6 separate regions of the Homo sapiens genome follow, and regions 1, 3, 4, 5 and 6 are each linked to region 2. The links come from fine-mapping of genetic effects on gene expression. A gene starts in region 2. Each other region holds a variant in brackets. All regions are shown on one strand. Distances are from middle to middle. Region 1 has its middle 43 kb from the start of DUSP22. Region 2 holds the start of LIRIL2R (lincRNA regulator of IL2RA). Region 3 has its middle 27 kb from the start of LIRIL2R. Region 4 has its middle 12 kb from the start of DUSP22. Region 5 holds the start of LOC105374870 (a long non-coding RNA gene). Region 6 has its middle 38 kb from the start of LIRIL2R.

What was found. PIP is the estimated chance that this variant, and not a neighbour inherited with it, causes the effect.
Region 1: its variant is fine-mapped to the expression of LIRIL2R in amygdala (GTEx, PIP 0.96).
Region 3: its variant is fine-mapped to the expression of LIRIL2R in whole blood (TOPMed, PIP above 0.99).
Region 4: its variant is fine-mapped to the expression of LIRIL2R in hippocampus (GTEx, PIP above 0.99).
Region 5: its variant is fine-mapped to the expression of LIRIL2R in prefrontal cortex (GTEx, PIP above 0.99).
Region 6: its variant is fine-mapped to the expression of LIRIL2R in prefrontal cortex (BrainSeq, PIP 0.91).

What each region holds. Positions count from the first base shown.
Region 1 is chr6:247,326-251,418 of GRCh38, forward strand. No RefSeq gene overlaps it. Among named protein-coding and RNA genes, the nearest start is that of DUSP22, 43 kb to the right of the region's middle. The variant G/T (reference allele first, on the strand shown) is at 1,799.
Region 2 is chr6:178,767-182,859 of GRCh38, forward strand. LIRIL2R (lincRNA regulator of IL2RA) reads left to right here and starts at 1,629. Exons shown (of 2, transcript XR_926349.3): 1 at 1,629-4,093. LINC03066 (long intergenic non-protein coding RNA 3066) reads right to left here. Exons shown (of 8, transcript NR_126020.1): 7 at 3,600-3,708; 8 at 2,700-2,929.
Region 3 is chr6:151,104-155,196 of GRCh38, forward strand. No RefSeq gene overlaps it. Among named protein-coding and RNA genes, the nearest start is that of LIRIL2R, 27 kb to the right of the region's middle. The variant T/A (reference allele first, on the strand shown) is at 2,336.
Region 4 is chr6:278,683-282,775 of GRCh38, forward strand. No RefSeq gene overlaps it. Among named protein-coding and RNA genes, the nearest start is that of DUSP22, 12 kb to the right of the region's middle. RefSeq lists a silencer at 2,595-2,749. The variant G/A (reference allele first, on the strand shown) is at 2,476.
Region 5 is chr6:227,674-231,766 of GRCh38, forward strand. It overlaps LOC105374870 (a long non-coding RNA gene), which reads left to right and starts at 3,257. Exons shown (of 3, transcript XR_926357.3): 1 at 3,257-3,325. RefSeq lists enhancers at 1-76, 87-206, 217-276. The variant C/T (reference allele first, on the strand shown) is at 2,301.
Region 6 is chr6:140,385-144,477 of GRCh38, forward strand. It overlaps the pseudogene SEPTIN14P6 and the pseudogene CICP18. Among named protein-coding and RNA genes, the nearest start is that of LIRIL2R, 38 kb to the right of the region's middle. The variant T/C (reference allele first, on the strand shown) is at 2,456.

The DNA of each region.
Region 1 (4,093 bases), 69 kb after region 2:
TTAGCGTTTTTTAATACTTTTGAAGAGTTGTGTAACCATCATGACTACGTAATTTAGAACATTTTTATCACCTTCAAAAAAAATATATCCCACACCTATGAGCAGTCACTCCCTATTTTCTCTTCCTCCCAGCCCCTGGCAATCACTAATTTAGTTTCTGGCTCTGTGGATTTCCCTTTTTCAGACATTTCGCATCCATGGTCTGATACAGCATGTGGTCTTTTGCGCCTGGCTTCTTTCACTTCACATTTTCAAGGTCTTTGGGGGTCATTAGCGCCGTGCCATGGATAAGAACTTCATTTGCTTTTGTGGCTAATAGTCTCTTGTATGGATAGACCACATTCTGTTTAGTCACTCATCAGTTGATAGACATTTGGGTTGTTTCTACTCTTTGGCTATTACAAAAAATGCTGCTACTATGAACATTTATGTACAAATGTTACGTAGACATATGTTTTGATTTCTGGGGTATACACCCAGGAGTAGAATTTTTAGGTAATATAAGAACTCTGTTTAATATTGTGGGTAACTGACACACTGTTTTCCAAAGTGGCTGCACCATTTTACATTCCCATGGTAAACTAAGAGGGTTCCAATTTTTCGTGTCCTTGCCAATACTTACTATTTTTTTTGAGATGGAGTCTCACTCTATTTGGAGTGCAATGGCGTGATCTCAGCTCACTGCAAACTCCGCCTCCCGGGTTCAAGCGATTCTCCTGCTTCAGCCTCCTGAGTAGCTGGGATTACAGGCAAGCACCACCACGCCCGGCTAATTTTTGTATTTTAGTGGAGATGAGGTTTCACCATGTTGGTCAGGCTGGTCTCGAACTCCTGACCTCGTAATCTGCCTGCCTTGGCCTCCCAAAGTGCTAGGATTACAGGCGGGAGCCACAGCGCCTGGCCAATACTTACTATTATTTGTCTAATTATAGCCATCCTCATGGGTGTGAAGTGATATCTCATTGTGGTTTTGATTTTCACTTCCCTAATGGTGGATAATTTTTGGGCATCTTTTCATATTCTTGTTGGCCATTTATATATCTTTCTTAGAGAAATGTCTGTTCAGATCCTTTGTGCATTTTTTTAAAAAATAGCTTATTTTTCTTTTTATTATTGAGTTGTAGATGTTCTGTACTTATTCTAGAAGCAAGTTACCCTTCTATTCTGAATATATTTGATTTGCAAATATTTTTCCCATTTTGTGGGGTTTTTTTTTTTAACCTGATGGTGTCTTTTGCAGAACAAAAGTTTTTAATTTTGATCAAGTCCAATCAATCTTTTTTTTTCATTTGCCACTTTTGCTTTGTTGTTTTATCTAGGAAGACTTTACCTAACTCAAGGATATTAAAATTTACCTTTAGTACTTCTTCTAAGAGTGTATAGTTTTAGCTCTCACATTAAGGTTTATGACTCATATGGATTTAATTTTTGTGTATGTAAGAAAGGAGTCCAACTTTATTCTTTTGCATGTTGATATTCAGTTTTCCCAGCACCATTTGTTAAAAAGATCTAGAGAGAGGAGGGTAATACTGGACCTACTCATAAAACCACCCGTGCTTGATTTTCTAATTTCTAATTTAAAATTATATCTATGAGTCTAATAATTTCCTAATTTTTAAAAATATTTTAATTTTTAATTTTGTGGGTACATAGTAGGTGTATGTATTTATGCAGTACATGAAACATTTTGATACAGGCATATAATGTATAACAATCACATCAGGGTAAACGGGGTATCCATCTCCTAAAGCATTTGTCATAGCTTTGTGTTACAAACAATCCAATTATAATCTGTTAG[G/T]TATTTTAAAATGTACAATAAATTATTGTTGACTGTAGTCACCCTGTTGTGATATCAAATACTAGATCTTATTCATTCTAATATATATATTAGAATATATACATATATTCTAATTCATATATATACATATGTATAAATAGAAAAGAAATATATATATTTCTTTTTTTTTTTTTTTGTAGATGGAGTCTCGCTCTGTCACCCAGGCTGGAGTGCAGTGGCATGATCTTAGCTCACTGCAACCTCCGCCTCCTGGGTTCAAGTGATTCTCTTGCCTCAGCCTCCCAAGTAGCTGGGACTACAGATGCACGCCACCATGCCCGGCTTATTTTTGTATTTTTAGAAGAGACAGGGTTTCAGCATATTGGTCAGGCTGGTTTCGAACTCCTGACCTCAAGTGATCCACCTGCCTCGGCCTCCAAAAGTGCTGGGATTACAGGCATGAGCCACCGCACCCACCCATTCTAACTATATTTGTGTACACTTTAACCATCCTTCTGTCCTCCCCACCCCAGCCCTTACTACCTTCTGGGAACCATTCTTCCCCTCTGTATCTCCATGAATTCAACTGTTTTAATTTTTAGCTTTCACAAGTGAGTGAGAACATGCAAAGTTTGTCAGTCAGTGCCTGGCTTGTCTCACTTAACATGATGACCTCCAGTCCCATGCATATTACAGCATCTAATTCTTTTCTATGGCTGAATAGTACTTTATTGTGTATATGTACCACATATCCTTTATCCATTCATCTATTGATGGATACTTAGGTTGCTTCCAGATCTTGGCTATTGTGAATAGTGCTGCAATAAACATGGGCATGCAGACATCTCTTCAGTATAGTGATTTTCTTTCTTTTGGGTATATACCCAGCAGTGGGATTGCTGGATTCTAGGGTAGCTCTATTTGTCAAAATTGATTGGCCACAAACATAAGGATTTATTTCTGGACTCTAAATTCTCTTCCATTGATCTACATGTCCGGCTAGTACCACACTGTCTTGCTTACTGTCACTTTGTAGTAAGCTTTAAAATCAGGACGTGTGAGTCTTTCAACTTTGTTTTAATTTTTCAAGATTGTTCTGGTTATTCTTGGTGCCTTGCCTTTCCGTATGAATTGTATAATAAGCTTGTCAGTTTCTGCCGAAAAAAAAAAGCCAGCTGGGATAATGATAGGGATTATATTGAATCTGTAGATCAATTTGGGGAGTACTGCCGTCTTAACAATAAGTATTGAGTATTCCAATCTATGTTCATGAGATGTCTTCCATTAATTTAGATCCTCTGTAATTCTTCCAATGATGTTTTGTACTATAGTTTTCAGTGTAGAAGTCTTGAATTTTTTGGAAAAATCTATCCTTAAAATATTTTATTCTTTTTGATACTATTATAAATGGAACTATTTTCTTACTTTTATTTTCAAATTGTTCATTGCTAGTGTATAGAACCAACCGACTTTTGTATATTGATCTGCTACCCAGCAACCTTAATGAACTAATTTTATATGCCTAATAGTTTATTTTGTGGCATGCTTAGAATTTTTAATATTAGATCATGTCATCTACAAACAGAGATAGTTTTACTTCTTTCTTTCCCATCTGATGTCTTTCACTTTTCTTTCTTGTCTAATTGTCCTGGCTTGATCCTCCATTGCAATGTTGAATAGAAGTGGTGAGAGTGGACTTCCTTAGGGCAAAAACATTCTGTCTTTTACCACATGTGTAATGTTAGGTGTGGTTTGTTTGTAGATTCCCTTGATCAGGTGGAGGAAGTTCCCTTCTATTCTTAGTTTTTGTGTGTTTGTATTATGAAAGATTGTTAAATTTTGTAAAATGCTTTTTTTCCCATCTCTTCAGATGACTATGTGGTTTTGTTGTCATGCTATTAATACAGTGCATTACATTGACTGATTTTTCAAAGTTAAAGCATCCTTATCTTCTTTGGATGAATCTCATTGGATTCAGTTTGTGTTTTGTTGAGGATGTTTGTATTGATATGTATAAGGGATATTGGTTTGTACTTTTCTTATGATATCTTTGACTGGTTTTGGTATCAGGGTAATACTGGCGACATAGAATAAGGTGAAAAGTGTTTCCTCCTCTTCTCTTTTTAAGAGTTTATGAGAGGGTCCGGGCGTGGTGGCTCATGCTTGTAATCCCAGCACTTTGGGAGGCTGAGGCAGGCGGATCGCTTGAGGTTGAGAGTTCGAGACCAGCCTGACCAACATGGAGAAACCCCATCTCTACTAAAAATACAAAATTAGCCAGGTGTGGTGGCACATGCCTGTAATCCCAGCTACTCA
Region 2 (4,093 bases):
AAGCTGCAGACCTTCGCAGTGAGTGTTAACAGCTCTATCAAGGTGGGGCGTCCAGAGTTGTTTGTTCCTCCTGGTGGGTTCATGGTCTGGCTGACTTCAGAATAGAAGCCGCAGACCTTCGCAGTGAGTGTTACAGTTCTTCAAGGTGGTGCGGACCCAAAAAGTGAGCAGCAGCAAGATTCACTGTGAAGAGTGAAAGAACAAAGCCTCTGCAGCATCGAGGGGTACCCAAGCAGGTTGCCACTGCTGGCTCGCATGGCCAGCTTTTCCCTTATTTGGCCCTGCCCATGTCCTGCTGATTGGTCCATTTTACAGAGAGCTGATTGGTGCGTTTTTACAGAGTGCTGATTGGTGCATTTACAAACCTTTAGCTAGACACAGAGCACTGATTGGTGCATTTTTACAGAGTGCTGATTGGTGCACTTACAAACCTTTAGCTAGACACAGAGTGCTGATTGGTGCGTTTTTACAGTCTGCTGATTGGTGCATTTACAAACATTTGGCTAGAGGGAAAAGTTCTCCAAGTCCCCACCCAACCCAGAAGCCCAGCCGGGCTTCACCTCTCAGTAGGAGCGGGGTGCAGGTAGGATCAGGGTGCTGGAGGGGCATGGGAGGGTAGGACAGAGTGCGGTAGTGAGAGGTGACAGAGTGCTGGCAGCCCTCACTCGCTCTCGGTGCCTCCTCGGCCTCGGCGCCCATTCTGGCTGTGCTTGAGCAGCCCGTCAGCCCAGCGCTGCACCGTGGGAGCCCTTCTCTGGGCTGGCCGAGGCAGGAGCCGGCTCCCTCAGCTTGCGGGGAGGTGTGGAGGGAGAGGCAGGGGCAGGAACTGGGGCTGCGCATGGCACTTGTGATCTAGCTAGAGTTCCGGGTGGGCGTGGGCTTGGCGGGTGGGCGTGGGCTTGGTGGGCCCCACACTCAGAGCTGGCTGGCCGGCCCCACCAGCCCCAGACAGTGAGGGGCTTAGCACCCGGGCCAGCAGCTGTGGAGGGTGCTCTGGCTCCCCGAGCAGTGCCGGCCCACCGGTGCTGCGCTCAATTTCTCACTGGGCCTTAGCTGCCTCCCCACGGGGCAGGGCTCGGGACCTGCAGCCCACCATGCCTGAGCCTCCCCCCAGCCGCCGTGGGTTTCTGAGCAGCCTGAGCCTGCCCAAGGGGTGCCGCCCCCTGCTCCACAGCACACAGTCCTATCGATGCTTAAGGGCTGAGGAGTGCTGGTGCGTGGTGTGGGTGTGCAGTGTGGGACTGGCGGGCAACTCTGCCCACGGCCCCAGCGCAGGATCCACTAGGCAAAGCCAGCTGGGCTCCTGAGTCTGGTGGGGACTTGGAGAACTTTTATGTCTAGCTACAGGATTATAACACCAATCAGCACTCTGTGTCTAGCTAAAGGTTTGTAAACGCACCAATCAGTGCTCTGTGTCTAATCTAGTGGGGACTTGGAGAACTTTTGTGTCTAGCTAAAGGATTGTAAATGCACCAATCAGCACTCTGTGTCTAGCTCAAGATTCCTAAATGCACCAATCAGCACCCTGTCAAAACGGACCAATCAGCTCTCTGTAAAATGGGCCAATCAGCAGGATGTGGGTGGGGTCAGATAAGGGAATAAAAGCGGGCTGCGGAGGCAACCGTGGTAAGCTGTGCTTGCATCATGTTTGGAAACTGTCGTACTGCGCGAAGCTTTGCAGCTTCCCTCCTTAAAGGCAGTGAGATGGCAAACCCACTGGGAGGAATGAGAAACTCCAGGCGCACCACCTTAAGAGCTCGTGACACTCACTACAAAGGTCTGCAGCCACTCCTGAAGCAAGCGAGACCACAAACCCACCAGCAGAAAGAAACTGAACACGTCCAAACATCTGAAGGAACTAGCTCCAGACACACCATCTTTAAAAACTGTCACACTCACTGTGAAGGTCTGCGGCTTTATTCTTTTAGTCAGTGAGACCAATTCCAGACACAAGACCATCTCATCTCAAGAGACCAGGACGTCCGGGCACCCCTAGAATGTAGCTGCTGGCAGAGCCTGAAGTCTATCCAGCTCATGCTCTTCCCTGATATCCTTGACAGATTGTGGGATGGTTCAGCCTCTGCAAGGACATGGCCAATGATGGGGGGCTGGTTTTGGGGGCAGCACTCTAGGCAAGGGAAGAAATAAAGTGTCTGGGAACTGGCGTGGTGAAGGGGCACTTTGTGGAGAAGATGTGTTCACATTTGGATGTGTCGAGGGTGGAATGATATGAGGAAAGTCAAAGGGTGCCCACCCCCAGAGCCTAGGTGTGGGCACAGCACTGCACCACGCCTTAGGGGAGATTGGACTCTGGGCAGAGATCCCAAGAGAAGCAGGAGTTGGAGTCTTGGGGGCCAGTGTGATAGGGAACTAACTTTACTTTAAAGCCAATTTGTCAGTAAGAAAAAACGAGGTGCACCTTGTAGGAGAAAAAGTCACAAGCTTGGTGTGCTTGAAGTCACAAGCCTTGCTGTGCTTGGTGAGAGGGATCCCGAGTGTACTTGAGGCACTCTCCTGTTTAAAAGGGGAACGGTGGTTTTCTTTTCTCAGTGTAGGTTAGTGTAAAAAATCTGCTTTGTAATTGCATAAGGTCTCAGCACAAACAAAATCACAGAAAATGTGAAATGTATTATAACAGTCAACTTGCTTAGAATGTAGTTGAACCTGCATGCAGTATTGAGACACCAGACAACTGTTTTCAGTCTCCACATTTCTTTCATTTCCTTTATGAAAGTTACATTAAGAAAAAAAATAACTCCCTTGAGTATTCTGATATTTTCGGTGAGTGAAACAGTAATCTCAGCAAAGTTCAATCTTGGTATCAGACAGAATTTCAGGTTGTTTCATCTAATTGCCACTTAATACCAAAGACATGATGTTTATTAGCATGTATTTCTAATGAGAAACTATTATAGTCGTCCTCAATTGTCTGAAATATGAAGCGGAAAAAGAAAATTATGAGCCCCAGATACCAGACCAGTTGCTGATCAGATAGAATATCGTGGTTCCAGCATATTATGAAATAAAAATTCAAAGACTGAATACCATGCAAAAGGTCAATATTCGGCAGCATCTGAGAAGTCATACATCTAGATAGACCTAAACTATAAGTGCAGAAGTGCTACAGTAAACTATATGGGCTTTCTACTAAGTACTGGCTAATTTTAAAACATACTGAAATTTATGTACATTAGTCTTTGTTATAAGAATTGAGAATCCGCATTGTATTATAAAGTTGATCTACAACAGTCACTTTATTATAAAATATTTTCGGCCTGGCGCGTTGGCTCACACCTGTAATCCCAGCACTTTGTGAGGCCGAGGCAGGCAGATCACCTGAGGTTGGGAGTTCAAGACCAGCCTGACCAACATGGAGAAAACCCCATCTCTACTAAAAATACAAAATTAGCCGGGCGTGGAGGCAGGTGCCTGTAATCCCAGCTACTCCGGAGGCTGAGGCAAGAGAATCGCTTGAACCTGGGAGGCGGAGGTTGCAGTGAGCCAAGATCTCACCATTGCACTCCAGCCTGGGCAACAAGAGTGAAACTCCATCTCAAAAAAAAAAAAAAAAAAAAATTCACCAGAAGGAAAGTGCTTACCTATTTGAACAACTCTGTACGGGTCTATACAGTATTCCAAGGCTCTTCAATAAGCACATGGTGATGACCCAGGTCAGTCGTGGCAAGGTTGGGGAATTAGAACAAACCTCTGTGGCAAACACAGATTATAGCTTGAAGTGAGCATCACGGATTTCTACAACAAACACTCTGACAAATATTTCCTGTGATAAACATCCACGTTCTCGAGGTGGGACAATTAACCCAAACTTTCCAAATTACATAAAAACTTTTGCTCTATCTAATTAAGCTGATAAATTCATTATTTTAAATGACAACATACAAAAGAAGTATAGATTTTTACTTAAAACGTATTGGATATGTGGGTATTCTCTTGTCTTTCTAAGCAAATGCTAATATCAGTTCAGTGCTTAACAATGTCAGCAGCAACTGGGCCCTCTAAGTCTCCTGCTACTGAAGTTTGAGGGATCAAGCCTCACCGTAATTTTGACAAAGACTAAATTCAAGATGTCTGA
Region 3 (4,093 bases), 28 kb before region 2:
ACTACTTTGATGCTATTTCCAAACAAAAGCTACCATGCAATTATTTACAGAAGCCTTATTCATAATGAACAAAGGAAAAAAAAGGAATCAGAAAGTCTTACAATAGATGACTGTGTGGGAATCCACTCAGACATCAAAAGTTGTTATAAAGATTATTTAAATGAAAGCATTTGAGATACTGAAGATAAAGGAAGAAATCTTAGCAGAACTTACTTTATCCAGTTAAAGCAGAGCTCCCAGAAAAATACAGCTGCCATTAACCCCATCCAAGGAGTTTCTTGCAAATTCAGCTGCCATGAAGACAGCGTACTCTTTCCCATTAGCAATGATAAATGAAAATGAAATCCTAAGCTCCCAACTGACTGAACAGACCCACTCTTGGCTGAGGGGACCCAAGAGTAAATTTCAAAACTGAGTTCTCAGCTTTGCTAGCATTTGAGATTGTGATGGTTGAATAAACTAATTAAGAGCCCAAAATGAAGGCTTGGAATAAATAACTGAGGGTGTCTAATATCCCAGTTTTTCATCCTAGAATGGGCAGAGTCCTTGACCCCATTCTAGGGAGACTTCCAAAAGAAAAAAGACCTGCATTTCTTCAACAACCCACATTGAGAGACTTTCTTGCACTTTTGACCTGTGGCTAACACTCCTCACCTTTCATTCTGTCATCAGTGTTTTGGGGAAACACCTTTAACTCTCTATGATTCACAGGTTATTAAGTGGTCCTTATAATTCCCTCCAGAGATGCAAAAGACTAATGATGGTGTCTGAGCTCACAGCAGCAAGCAGGCGTGTGTGCACAGCAGCCACGTGGCTCATCTGCTAGGAGCTTACTAAATACGATGTTCTACAACATTGTTTAACGCAAGGGGAGACGCTCCTACTCAGAGGGTTTAATTGCTCACCTACTTCTTTTTCTGCCTTCTTGGGCTCCTAAAATGAAAAAAAACCCTGGAGTGATAAAGTGAATCAAAGGGGTACCAGCTGCATCACAGCAAAATAGATTCCTAAAAAATCCCTGGCCTAAGATGACAGCCTTGGCTGGATAAGCTTGAATGTGCTGATAGTGGACATGGTAGAATGAAGGTGGTTGAAATGTTCATATTAAAGAACTTCCACCCAGATTGCAAGAAAAGAGAGAGGAATGGAGATGGCAGCACAAGCCCCTACAATAAAAGCAGATGTTTTGAGATCAGTTATATTTGTCCTGAAAAAAATAAAAACAGAAACCAAAGTTTAGCCTGAGGCTACAATTAATTGGGCAATAAGCCAGAGGCATATATGGCATAGACAGACTTAAACATTTCTCCCTTGTATTAATACAAATACTAAAATTACAAATAAACTGATTCCAAATAAAACAAATACTTTAAAAATTTAATGAATAAACACTGGAGTCTACAGTAGCATTTGAAGGAGATCTCACAAACAGGTTTGGTTTCTGAAGGTTAGAACTGATGGTCTAGAGAATTCATTTCATTCCAGAGACAGAAAGAGAGGAATTTCTTAGGCTCCTTCAGGAATGCGTCTGGCTTTGCATCATCTTTGTATGTTTGAACTATGCATATGGCGTAAGAAAACAGGATTTCACAGATTTAAGGTGCGAAAAGTCACTGGGTTCTCTTAAGAAGTCTGGGATTATTCTGCTGGAAAAATAAGTTTGTTGAGAAAAAATGAGTTGGAGGAGGCTGTTATTGAAGTGAAGCAGAATTGTTTTTACTAATCTGCTTATTACCCACTCTGTAGTGTGGAAACAAATTATTCATGCACAAGGTCCTCTCACTGTTCCTGGAATGCAGTGGAAAGAGAACAGATTAGTTTTTCCTCCTTCAGAACACAACCACTAGAAACATCCTACCTCAGATGAGATATTCCCTAATTATTTTCAAAAGACAGTGAAAAACGATGGATGTAAATGTTTGCTACAAAATAAATACATGGTAGAAACAGAAGCATCTGGGTCACAGCTATATTAGAGCTACCTGTGTTCCCCTGTCACTGAGATTAAAACAAAAATGTCCAATACAATCATTCACAGCATGGGAGAGGGGAAGTTGAAGGGTTAGGAAACGCCAGTCATAAAAGGATTTCAGAATTTCAGTCCATAAGGAAGTGGTTTTGTGCATTGTCTGTTCTTGTGTGCAAGGTGAAGTCTGGAGAACAGAAACGTGCAGTAACAAGGGCTCCTTTGTCCATATCACCTCTCTAGATATCAAGTTTCAGACATGTTGCATTTTAATTGAAAGGTTGATATAATTTTTTGAAAAAGAAAACTTGTGGTGTTTGAAGTGACAAAGACTGCTGTGACAAAAAAGCAGGGAAAGGGAATTTTTTT[T/A]AAAAAAGCAAACAACAACAACAAAAACCCACAAAAAAGCAAACAGCAAACAAACAAAAAACAGGGGAAGAAGTCGAAACACCCTGGGTTGTGACTACTTCCAGGAAGGGGCTACAAGAGGCAGTTGGAAATTCTATTTGCTTTGCAACTGTGAGTTTTCCAGCCTGCTCCCTTTCTAAAGTATATTACTCTGCTTTTGGTTCATGAAGTTATCCATTTCTGTTTTCTGGAACAGCTATGTATTTTCTTTATCTATCATCTATCTATCTATTTACCATCTATCTTTTCTACCTTTCGCTATCAAGAGCTTGGGTCAAGCAGGATAGAATTCCAGTGTATGTTCACTCTACCATTTAAAACAAGAGCTCTTGTAGGCATTCTCCATCACATCATAAACCTGAGCTTTCTAAAACAGGGTGTGGCAAACTACCATGCATGGGCCAGGTCTGACACAGTCTGCGTTTGTAAGTAAAGTTGTAATGGGACACAGCCACATACATGTGTTATACAATGTCTCTGGCTACTTTCATGGTATAATGGAAGAGCTGAGTCATTGAGAGAGGGACAACATGGCTTGGAAAACTTGAAATATTTAACATTTAGCCCTTTGCAGAAAATATTTGCTGACTCTTGTTTTAGAAGATCTCTCTTTAGAATGCTACCTATTGCCTTCTGGATAGAATCACAACTCTTTACCACAATCAACACACAGCCCTGCTTTTATTATTTCCACTCCTCCTCCTTATTTTCCTTCTGACAATGCCGATGGATTGTCAGCTTCCCAGATGTGCAAGAATCTCTCCTCCCTTCCCGACATTCTCATGCTCTCCCTCTGCCTCTCAAGAACTTCCTGTCCCATCTCTCATGACAAATCTCTTCTTCATTCTTTAAGATGCAGCCCCTTTGCTCCTTCCTTAAGGATGTCTGTCTGGCTTTATTTTGGGTGACATGCTCCTTCTGCATCTCCCAGAGCCAGCCTCTGTGTGTCAGCTACAGCATTTCTTTGCATCTCTGTGTCATATATCATCAAATCTGCCTAAGCTTGAGTGAGTCACTGCATGACAACTTCAGACTCCACCAGCATTGTCTGCACTAACAACGAGGCTTAGAGATTTGTCCAGTATGCTCGGGGTTGTGGGGTGGTAGCAGTAACCAGCTGGTGAGCATCATCTCTTACATCAGAATGAAATCTGTAGATCTCTGCCATTCATAAGTATTTGGAGCTTAAAATTAGCATAAAGATTTTCCTTAAGAACAAATGGCTTGAGTAGGCTTTTGGAACGTAGGATATTTCTGCTCGTTCATTTCAGCGTTCAGTATTCCCACATGAATCTAAACACGGCTCTGCTCTTAGTAACTGTGCGACCCTGGGAAAGTCACTCAATCTCCCTCAGCTAAATTTTGTTGTGTGAGTAATGAGAAGAGAGTTGTGGTTTGTATTTAGTGAGTAATAACAAGCAAAAGGCATTTAGCTTTCTGGAACCTGGTATGTAGTAGATCCTCATGAAATACTAGCTCTGTTGATAAAACTAGACTGAAAGAAGCTTTCAAAGTCAACAACAGTATCATGTAGTGACGGACGTAGATGAGAAGCTGCTGCTGCAGCTTGCAGCTCCTGGAGGCCAGTTTTGTCCATGACTTAGCAGGAATGCACTACCTTTCCATGAGGAGACACTGCCCAAAGAAACCAAGGCCATTCTTTGAGGACAAATATGTTTTAATAGCTTTTATATTATGTAATAGTGTAATACAAATACT
Region 4 (4,093 bases), 100 kb after region 2:
GCAGAGCCTGGAGGTGGCTCTCAAGAGAATTTGGTGGAAGTCTGTGGAGGAAGATCCTGGATGTGGCTCTCGTAAGAATTTGGTGGAAGGCTGTGGGGAGAGCCTGGAAGTGGCCTCTCATGAGAATCTGGTGGAAGGCTGTGGGGAGAGCCTGGAAGTGGCTTTCTCTCATACTAGCTCATTGTTGTTCTCTAGAAATCTGTCTTGAAGGTTTATCTTCTTATCTACTTGCACGGTAGCTGGGATTCTGTTTCTCCCATTTACCACTGGTGGACAAATGCTCAAATCCTTTCTACCCTCGGAAAGAATTGTCTTTTTTTTGGATTTGGAACTATTTGGTTACCCTATGACCTCAGGTATTTGATGCGCTCAGGAAAAGTTACAATTCTATGGTATATCTAGTTTTTACTTGTTAGAGTGGGGGCAGTACTCCTGCCATTCTGTATATTTTCAACTCCTCATCTGTCTTTCTTTATGAGTAGAAATCTCAGTAAGGACATAATAAAACAGAGCTTTAAATGTATGCATTAGAATCTTCTTTAATTGGTCTTGCAAAGCACATAGGTTCCTCTGTTGTAATAAATAATAAAGACAGTGCCTTATCTTTATTATTCTCTAAATATATGTTAGGGACATTATTTGACCAACAGTATAACTGCATGGATGTTATTGCAAAGAACTTTCAGGAGGACTGAGAGCCATCTCTCGATGAGGCTGTCTCTCTTTCATACCGTTTCATTCCTAAGGCTATCTGCTGAGCACAGCTGGGGTTGTCAGAACTACCAAACTACTGGAAATGAGGTGCATGATAAAATAAATTATTTCAAATTAAGATCTCATAAAACCATCTTTGAGGTTACTTATTTAGCATACATTGACTTTTAAAAATTATCTCTACAATTCAGGACATCGCATAGTTCACTTCCTCAATATCCGTTGCCTATTTAAGCTGACAAATTTGAAATGATAGATTAGAAAGAGGCCTACTGCATGACATGTATAATTCACTCTTCCAGTCAAATTTAAGAGTCCTTGCCTTCATCTGGCCTTTACGCCCAGCATTACCTTCCACTGCTGACAACAGGACTGGAAGTGGCTCTCAGTGAGGCTGTCTGTGAGGCCGGAGGCTGGAAGTTCAAGAGGCAGGTGTAGGCAGAGTGTGTTTCCTCTGAGGCCTCTCTCCTTGGCTCATTCTCCCTGTGTTCTCACATGGGCTTCCCTCTGTGTCTCTGTGTCCCCACCTCTTCTTCTTGTAAGGACATTAGTCGGATTGGATCCAGGCCACCCTGATGGCCTCATTTGACCTGACTTACCAGAAGTAGCCATCATCGTCATATAGGTGTTCAGGTGGGAACCTCAGTATCTACCAAGTCCATTTTGCTTTTGCACTCAGCACTCCATCTTTTTTTTTTTTTTTTTTTTTTTTTTGAGACAGAGTCTCGCTCCATTGCCCAGGCTGGAGTGTAGTGGTGCGATCTTGGCTCACTGCAAGCTCCGCCTCCTGGGTTCACACCATTCTCCTGCCTCAGCCTCCCAAGTAGCTGGGACAACAGGCGCCCAACACTACGCCTGGCTAATTTTTTGTATTTTTAGTAGAGACAGGGTTTCACCATGTTAGCCAGGATGGTCTTGATCTCCTGACCTCGTGATCCACCCGCCTCAGCCTCCTAAAGTGCTGGGATTACAGGTGTGAGCCGCCGTGCCAGGCCTTGGCACTCCATCCTCTTTAGCCACCCTTTGTTTCAGTTTTGTGACTCCACCATCAGCTCTTCCTCGAAGACTCTGTCTTATTCATCTTTCACTCTTACCTTTTTATCTTCCAATGCTTATTTAAGTATTTTTTGCAAAATTAGAATTCAGCTGCTTATTTTAAAATTATTAAAGTAACATGCTTATAGCGATGACCTACTCATGGTGGCATGTGCTTTCACTGCTCCCAAAGGTGGAACAAATAATCATTTTTAGAGCAATCAAAATCTTGTGATTTTGCTGTAAGACACTTAACAAAATTTAAGTTGTTGTTGGGTTTGCTGTTTTTTCTCATGGAATTTGGCTCTGTCTTTTCTGCTTGGGTAACCCAGAGGCACCTGAAACTCAGGTGTCTGGGCAGCAATCATCATTTTCTCACTTAACAGGTTCCTCCTCCTCTGCTCCCAGCCTTTGGGAAGGGCACCGCCATCCATGAAGTTCCCTAAGCCAGGAACCCAGAGTTACCCTTTGCGTCTTCCTCCTCCCCATTTCCCAAATCCAGTGAGTTTCAAGTCCTGCACATCTTGCAGTCTGTGGCTTCCTCCACCAGCACCCTTCAGTCCCCCTTCCCCAAGGCCCATCTTTGGTTAAGGTCCTCATTATTTTTTACCTGGCTTTCTGTAAAGGTCTTCTAACTGATCTCCCCGCCTTCAGTCTTACTTGCTAGAATATGACATCCTCTAAACTGCTCTCAAGATGTTCAATCTAAAATCTGAATCCCAGGAA[G/A]GCTTCCCAAGCTCCCTGGGAGGAGTATCAGCTTCTGGCAAGGCAGGAGAGGATGATCGTCATCTGTCCCTGCCTCCCTTCCGCTCGCTTCCTGCCTCTCCCCATGCTGCACTCTGTAGGCCCACCTTGGTGTACCACCTTGGGTCCCCAAAGGTGCCCATCTCTCTCGCCACCACGCCTCTGAGTCTGCAACACCCTGCTCCGGAACTGCCCTTCACCCAGGCTTCCTCCTCTGGCTGAGGGATTTTTCCTCTTGGGATGCAGCCTGGACTGGTGGCTCTGGAGCCAGGCAGGCCTGAGTGTGGATCCCGGCTTAGCCATTTGCTCAGCCTCCCTGAGTCTAACGTTCCTATCTGTAAAAAGGAGAAAATAATACCAACCTTCCAGTATTTCTAGGAGGAATTAGAAGTAGTAATAAATATCAATATGTGGTAAAAATGACACAGATACCTCTTATTGTAGGACAAGTAGGATTCTAAGTGCTTTACTCATATTAACTCATTTGTTATTCCAGACTCCATTCACGATTCACCTCCTCCATGCAGCCTGTCTTGATTTCTCAATACCTGACTGGATGCCTTTGCAGATTATTTTTTCCCTCCCTGTTTATGTTCCCTCTCTCTTTGCCCCACAGGTGTCCTGGGAGCTTGGCACATATGGAACACATCAGTTGGACTCCTTTGCTGGCTTCCGGGTGGGTCTGGCGTTTGGAAAAGGTTGAGAAAGGCCAGGGCGTTTCTTCCCCATGCTGTCCATGATCAAGCTGTATCTGTGGCAGCAGGTGTGTCTCTCCCTGCATTAGTTTGTGAGGCACTACAGACTCAGTGGCATAAACAACAGTTATTTACTCACAGTCTGTGAGGCTGGAGGCTGGAAATTCAAGAGGCAGGTGTAGGCAGAGTGCGTTTCCTCTGAGGCCTCTCGCCTTGGCTCATTCTCCCTGTGTCCTCACATGGGCTTCCCTCTGTGTCTCTGTGTCCCCACCTCTTCTTCTTGTAAGGACATTAGTCGGATTGGATCCAGGCCACCCTGATGGCCTCATTTGACCTGACTTACCTTTTGAAAGGCCCGATCTCCAAATGCACTCACATTCTGAGGTGCTTCATAGGAATTTGGGGAAGAGGGACTCAACTCAGCCCCTAGAGATCCCCACCTACTCCGCAGGTGGCCCCCCTGCCGTGGCTCCAGCGGCCACTGGGCTCCAACGAGGCTGTTCTTCCTCCGCCCCTTCAGGCCTACGATGGTCACGGCTTCCCACTGTCTGGTCTCCAAGCCCAGGGCTCCTCTGGGTTCTCTTCACCCTGCCATGCGATTCATGAAGTGATTCCTCACTGAAGGTGCTTCAACTGTCTGACTGGAGTTTCATTTGCTGCTGCTGGGACACTTGAGGGTGCCTTGGCTGCGAGTACCCTGGACCACTTTCTTTCTTCTGCCCTGAACACCTGGGCGTGCAGCTCTGTGCTCCCTATGGAGGTGCAGGTTCCTTGGGGGCAGAAACCATGCCTTGCTCTTTGTGCACCCGCAGGGCCTTGCCCGGGGTCTGATGTATGTAGAGCGGGCGCCAGGTGTTCAGTTCAATGCCATCATTGACGATGGCTTCTGGCGCCACTCTCCCCAG
Region 5 (4,093 bases), 49 kb after region 2:
TGGTGTAAACAGCATTCGACAGGCTTCTGTAATCATAATTATCATGACATAATTGTAACTTTTCTTCTCAATACAGTCCTTTTCTCCATTCGATTAAAGTGATATTTTGCTTACAAGTAACAAAAACCTGGCTTAAAGCACAAGGACATTTCTAGTTTACTTAAGTCCAGAGATAGCTGGTCCCAAGGTATTTCGGCCACTCAGGCCACTGAGAACCAGGTTATTTCTGTTCTGTCATCCCTAGAGAGTTGGGCTGTCTACCGAGCAGTCACTGTTTAACATGGACATAGGCGGCAGCTGCCTGGGAAAGCACCATGTGTTTTCACAACGGGGTTCCAGGTTCGCAAGAGAAGGACTTTCTGCTCTTGCACCTCTCTCCCTTATGGGGGGGAAATATTTCTGGGCAGCCCCAGCAGACATCCTACTGGATGACAGGGTCTCTCCTGGCATTCTCCCCTGGCAAGGGGAGTGTGTGGGTGCCTCTGTTTGGGCCATTCCTCAGAGCGACTGTATTGTTCCCTGAACATAATCAGGCTGCCCCGCAGGATGGTGGTGGGAATGGCTGGTGAGCCTTTGACACTGCGAGGTTGTAGAATGTGTTCTAAAACAACAGAGAGGCATCAGAGCACGAGGAGGGAGGGAGGGAAGGAAGAAACAGGCAATGGTGGGAATGAGGAGCAAAGGAAACAAGAAAGAAAGATTTAAATCAGGCAGGAACACCAGGTCCTAGCGTGTAGGTACTTTTTAAGATGGAATGTACTTTACAACTAAACCCTATGTCAGATTCATGTTCATTTATCATGACTTCATTATATGCTGTAGTAGCTTAGTAGTTTTCAAAACTTTTTGTTTTTTTGAGACAGGGTCTTGCTCTGGAGTGCAGTGGCACAATCTTGGCTCACTGCAACCTCCGCCTCCTGGGTTCAAGCAATTCTCCTGTCTCAGCCTCCTGAGTAGCTGGGACTACAGGCGCCCACCACCACGCCTGGCTAATTTTTGCATTTTGAGTAGAGATGGGGTTTCACTACATTGGTCAGGCTGGTCTCCAACTCCTGACCTCAGGTGATCCACTCTCCTCGGCCTCCCAAAGTGCTGGGATTACAAGCGTGAGCCACCGCGACTGGCAGTTTTCAATCTTTTTGAAGCAAGCAAATTTTATATTAAAAAAAAAAAAACATTGGTTTTTTGGTGTGTGTGTGTGTGTGTTTTTTTTTTATCATTTGATAGGTCAATATAAAACAAAGGCAATCCATTTTCCACCCAGAAGTGACTTATACCACATGCTTTGTCTAAGCCTTCATTTGCTCTTGGGAAAAATGTTCCTCATCTTTCTAGAATGAAGAGAAGTACTTTCTTTGGAGATTGACAGGGGCCAGAACAAAGTTAAATAATGTACTCCTGGAAATGCAATTTTGTCAAAGGAGTAACTTCTCTCAGTCCTCAACGCGTGCAGTCATTACACAAGTGCTCGGCAGAGTCAGGGAGTCTCAGCATCGTTCTAGAAAGCCCAGATTGACCGCCTTCCTTCCACTATGCCTGGGCTGGCGGGAGGGCAGGACTAAGTGGCGGGATTGCACCCCTCCCCGCAATGTCTAAAAGTGGAGCCGGGCTCAGCCAGGCAGTGGGTGGGGGTGTGTGGGTCTCAGCCAGTTTCAATGGTTTTGACAATGAAACTCACCTGGGTGTGTGTTATTTGGCTTTGTTCTTCAGATTTAGACCCTCTCCTAAGTCAAATTGAAACTCCCCGAACTGGTATCCTATAAGAGCTGACCCTTATAGTAATGTGTGCTTCGAATCATGTGAACTGAAACCTGTGGACTTCCCACAGCCCAGCAGGACCCACCTTCCCAAGCAGCAAACCCTGGAGCCTCGAGCTGACACGTCAGTCCTTGTGCTTCGTGCACATTTAGAAGGAACTTCAGACAAACTTCATTCACTTCAAACTCTGTCCCCTTGGAGCCTCGAGCTGACATGTCAGTCCTTGTGCTTCGTGTAGATTTAGAAGGAACTTCAGACAAACTTCATTCACTTCAAACTCTGTCCCCTTGGAGCCTCAAGCTGACACGTCAGTCTTTGTGCTTCGTGCAGATTTAGAAGGAAATCCAGACAAACTTCATTCACTTCAAACCCTGTCCCCTTAACCTATTTCCAGTATCCAGAGGTAAAGCAAATCCTTCAATGTGATGCCCAAATAAAACTATAAATATACATATGTAATATATACAAATACAGAAAAATATATACATACATATGTGCACACATGTCTATATGTTTGCATGTATGTATATGATATTGAATCA[C/T]GCTTTTTCATTTAATAACATGACTTGCAGAACCTTCCACCTGCATATTTAGTTCATATCACTTTATTCTATTTAATAGCTGCAAAACCTCGATCCAGTCTCTTCTATTTGTTGATACGAGGGCTCAGCCCCCCACCCACCCCTCATTTTTTTGGCCTTGTTAATGATGCAATTAATGTTGATAGATAGATAGATAGATAGATAGACAGACAGACAGACAGACAGACAGATAGATAGATAGAGATATGTAGAAAGATATCTATGTATCTCTATGTATCTATTTTTATATGTACTTAAAAACAAATATCTGTAGAGTGAGTTGCCTGAAAAAGGATAAGTGTATTTTCACAGGAATTACCTATTGCCCGCCAAAATTGTTGTCCAACTCAGCCTCTCACCAGTGGTGCAGGAGACTGGTAAACCTCACCAATGCTGGGTTTTATTAAGCTTCATTTATTGCCAATGCTATGTAAATAGCCAGTTATACAGCACTAGTATTTTGCTTTCCATTTCCTTAATCAGGAGTGTAACTGAGAAATCTGTCTCATGTTTGATGGTCAAGAACTGGCTTTTGAGAGTCTCTATTTTTCAATAGAATATTTCCCCTTTTCTTTACTGATATGACAAAGCTCTCTTTACAATAAGCAAAGACACCTATGGTTGGTCACCTGCCTTGCAAAACTTTCCTAAGTATATTGTTTCTCTTTTGGTTTTCTGTATTTTATATGTAAAAGGTTAGGCTTTTTGTGAAATTTGGTAATAAATGTTATTACTTCTGGCATTCCTGGCCTCTTTCATCATGACTATTTTTTCAATCACTCATCTTTTTTTAGCCCTCATGATTCCAGCTCCTTTTAACATATGACACCGCTTTTGAAAGATGGTGGTTGCTAATCCTGAAGCCGTTGACTCCCCAGATGACGTTCCCGTGAAACGCTTGGCAGTTGCAAGAGGAACTCGGGTCCTCAGTGCCGTTTACCAAGGCCGACAAAGTCCAGCGGCATTATCGTGTCATCGTGACATCGGTATTTGACTGTGGAAGCTGAAAGCCCGTTAGATAATTACATAAACATTCATGGCAAGAAATACTGTTTCCTTATTTCTTATTTTTATTTTTTTTTTGAGACGGAGTCTCGCTCTGTCGCCCAGGCTGGAGTGCGGTGGCGCGATCTCGGCTCACTGCAAGCTCCGCCTCCCGGGTTCACAGCATTCTCCTGCCTCAGCCTCCAAAGTAGCTGGGCCTACAGGCGCCCGCCACCATGCCCGGCTAATTTTTTTGTATTTTTTAGTGGAGATGGGGTTTCACCGTGTTAGCCAGGATGGTCTTGATCTCCTGACCTCGTGATCCGCCCGCCTCAGCCTCCCAAAGTGTTGGGACTACAGGCGTGAGCCACCGCGCCTGGCTGTTTCCTTATTTTTTATTATGAAAGATTCCTGGGCTGTTGCAGTCCTATTTATACCTATAATTTCTCTTATTCAACTGCAGTGTCCTTGCCTTCTTGTTTAATTGGGGTAATACTCCTTTCACTGAAATACTTTGGAGGAGTGTTGTAAAGTCTGCTGAGAAAATTTCTGTGAAAAGTTTTAAAGATATTGGGGGCAGTGTCTGCCAAACAGATTCTTCTCTGATGCCCTGGGCCCAGCCTTCTGTTTCTGTTTTCATTGATAATTTGTCGTTTCTTTTGAGAATGTTTCAAGTCAAGATAAAGATCACTGTGATGGGAACATTTATCTCCTCAATCACACCAGATACTACATTACTTTTTATTTACTTTTCTATAATTTCCATTCTT
Region 6 (4,093 bases), 38 kb before region 2:
AAACCAATGTGCAGTTGTGACACCAAAGCAGTGTGGCTGAACACCCAAAAGAATATGCTTTTTTCTGATTATCAAACAAACCCAAATCATCACAGTAGAGCACGATCTTAATAACAATCTCAAAAACTCAGGAGTAAACACTCAGATATGGAATTTTTCTTTTCTTTCTTTTTTCCTTTTATAAGATGGAGTCTCACTCTGTTGCCCAGGCTGGAGTGCACTGGTGCAATCTCAGCTCGCTGCAACCTCCATCTCCCAGTTCAAGTGATTCTCCTGCCTCAGCCTCTTGAGTAGCTGGGACTACAGGCATGCACCACCACTACAGGTGTGTGCCACCACACCTGGCTAATTTTTGTATTTTTAGTAGAGATGCGGTTTTGCCATGTTGGCCAGGCTGGTCTCGAACTCCTGACCTCAGGTGATCCTCCCGCTTTGGCCTCCCAAAGACTTTTTTTTTTTTTTTAATATACAGACAAGTTCTCAGTATGTTGCCCAGGCTGGTCTCAAACTCCTGAGCTCAAGTGATCCTCCCACCTCAGCTTCCCAAAGTGCTGGGACTGACTGGATGCAGTGGCTCATGCTTGTAAACTCAGCACTTTGGGAGGCCAAGGTGGGAGGATCGCTTGAGCCCAGGAGTTCAAGACCAGACTGGGTGATATAACACAATAGTAAACTTCAACAGGAGAGAGAATCTGTAAACTTGAATATAGATCTTCTGAAATTATCCAGTCAGAGGACAAAGAAAAAAAGAATAAAAAAGAGAAAAGAAGGCTGGGCGTGGTGGCTCAAGCCTGTAATCCCAACACTTTGGGAGGCCGAGGCAGGCAGATTAAGAGGTCAGAAGTTCAAGACCAGCCTGGCCAACATGACAAAACCCCATCTCTACTAAAAATACAAAAATTAGCCGGGTGTGGTGGCACACACCTGTAGTCCCAGCTACTTGGGAGGCTGAGGCAGGAGAATCACTTGAACCCAGGAGGCGGAGGTTGGAGTGCAATGTGAGCCGAGACCACACATTGCACTCCAGCCTGGGTGACAGAGCATGACTCTGTCTCAAAAAAAAAAAAAAAAAAAAAAAGAGACAGAGAAAAGAAAGCCAACAAGACACCATTAGGCAAACCATTGTCAGGTTATGGGAGTTTGAGAAGGAAAGTAGAGAAAGGAGAAGAAAGCTTATTTAAAGAATGGCTGAAAACTGCCTAAATCATGGGAAAGATTTAGACATCTAAATCCATGAAGCTTAAAGATTCCTAAAGAGGTTCAAACCAAATAGATACTCACCAAGTCACAATATAATCAAATAGTCAAAAGTTAAAGAAACTTTGCAGGTCAGGACAGAATCGAATAATACATTCAAAGTGCTGAAAGAAAAAAACTGCCAGCAACTAATACTATGTCTGACAAAGCTGTCCTTCAGAAAGAAAAAAGAAATAACGTGTTTCCTCGACAAACAAAGCTGAGGGCATTCAGGACCACTAGGTCTACCTTAAAAAAATGCTTAACGGAGTTTTTCAAGTAAAAAGGAATGAAGTTGGGAGCGGTGGCTCATGCCTGTAATCCCATTTTGGGAGGCTGAGGTGGGTGGATCACCTGAGGTCGGGAGGTCAAGACCAGCCTGGCCAACATGGCAAAACCCCACCTCCAGTAAAAATACAAAAAATTAGCCAGGTATGAAGGCCACTGAGATCGTGCCACTGCACTCCAGCCTGGGTGACAAGAGTCAAACTACATTTCAAAAACAAAAAACAAAACAAACAAAAAAAACAAAACTTGAGGCCTGGCCTTCTGCTCCTCTCCAACCTCCCCTTCTCTGGGCCCAAGCCACCTTGGCTGAGGAGGGGGCGAGGAGGTGTGAGCCCCTGCCAGGAACCCCCTGCCCGGACCAAGTACTCGGCCCCCAGGCCTGCGTTCAGTGAGGCCTCCCGTGGCGTCAGCATGTTCGTGTGGAGGAATGTGGAAGGTCACTCTGCGGCTGTGTTCCCCTGGTACTCCATCCCCTTCCTGACCCCTCCCTGCAGCCACACGAGGCCCAGCAACCTGCCAGTCACTCAGTGGCCTGCAACCAGAGAAAACAACCTGCCAAGTTGCCAGCTGTTGCTCATGAGCGTCCACCAGGTGGGACAGGGAGTGTTGACCCTGGGCGGCCCCCTGGAGCCACCTGCCCTGAAAGCCCAGGGCCCGCAACCCCACACACTTTGGGGGTGGTGGAACCTGGTAAAAGCTCACCTCCCACCATGGAGGAGGAGCCCTGGGCCCCTCAGGGGAGTCCCTGCTGGACAGTGAGACAGAGAATGACCATGATGATGCTTTCCTCTCCATCATGTCTCCTGACACCCAGTTGCCTCTACCACTCAGATGATGTCAGGCCCAGTCCCTCAGTGCCCTGCGCAAGGAACAGGACTCATCTTCTGAGAAGGATGGACGCAGCCCCAACAAATGGGACAAGGACCACATC[T/C]GGTGGCCCATGAGTGGCGCTCATGATCTTCAGCAAGCGGCACCAGGCCCTGGCGGGGCGCACCAGGGTCACCCCAACCAGGATAACCGGACCGTCAGCCAGATGCTGAGCGAGCGGTGGTACACCCTGGGGCCCAGTGAGATGCAGAAATACGACCTGGCCTTCCAGGTGAAGGTGGCCCACTTGCAACAAGGACCGAAAGAAGTCCAGCTCAGAGGCCAAGCCCACAAGCCAGGGGCTAGCAGCAGTGTAACAAGGGCTCGTGGGAGCGGAGCATATCAGAGACGGGCACTGCCACTGCCCCTGGGGCGTCCTCTGAACTCCTGTCAGTTGCAGCCCAAACACTCCAGAGCTCGGATGCCAAGGAGCAGCTTCTGTGGGGCAGAACGGCTGCACACAGTCAGGGAACCTGGCTCAGCCTGGCCCAAGCCTTCTCCCACAGCGGGGTACACAGCCTGGACGGCAGGGAAATAGACCGTCAGGCACTACGGGAACTGACACAGGTGGTGTCTGGCACTGCATCATACTCTGGCCCAAAGCCTTCTACTCAGCATGGAGCTCCAGGCCACTTTGCAGCCCCTGGTGAGGGAGGTGACCCGTGGGCAGCCCTGCTGCTGCCCACCTGAGCTGCTCATTCCCAGCACATGGCCAGTGAGGACACAGCGAGTGACGAGGAGCACACGGTCATCCATGAGGAGGAGGGGGTGATGATGTCATTGCTGATGATGGCTTTAGCACCACCGACACCGATCTCAAGTTCAAGGAGTGGGTGACCGACTGAGAGTGGGGACAGCTCTGGGGAGGAGCCAGAGGGCAACAAGGGCTTTGGTGGGAAGGTATTTGCACCTGTCATTCCTTCCTCCTTTACTCCTGCCGCCCCTTGCTGGATCCTGAGCCCCCAGCGTCCCCCGATCCACCTGCAGCTTTTGGCAGTCTATGGTCACACCCTGTCCTCCTCCTACACATACTCGGATGCTTCCTCCTCAACCTTGGCGCCCACCTCCTTCTTACTGGGCCCAGGAGCCTTCAAAGCCCAGGAGTCTGGTCAACGCAGCAGAGCGGGCCCCCTACGGCCCCAACCCCTGGGGATGGGGGCCCAGGGACGCCTTCCAAGGTGGCCTGTTTCCTCCCAATGGATCCTGCCACCTTCTGGTGCAAGAGACCTGAAAGTGTGGGCGACCTGGAGCTACCAGGCTCCTCAGTCATCAGGGTCCCTCCCAACACTAAGGCTTTCCTAGGCAGGAGCTGGGCTGAGCCACCCGGGGAGCAGAGCCTGAAGAGAAACTGACTGGGCTTTAGGGGTCGGGGCAGAGGGAACCCCACGGACATGGATCCCACACTGGAGGACCCCACCACGCCCAAATGCAAGATGAGAAGATGTTCCAGCTGCAGTCCAAAGCCCAACACCCCCAAGTGTGCCATGTGTGATGGGGACAGCTTCCCCTTTGCCTGTACAGGTGGAGAAGCCGAGGACAGGCTCAGGGAACCGGAGACCGAGAAGGAGCTGTCCTCTTCACTGCACGTGCCCTGGACCAGTGCCGGCCCTGATCATGCAGCTCTTCCAGGCCCACTGCTTCTTCCTGTCCACTAGGCCACAGCCGCCCTCCAGGCCCACTATGCACACATCTTCCCCTCCAA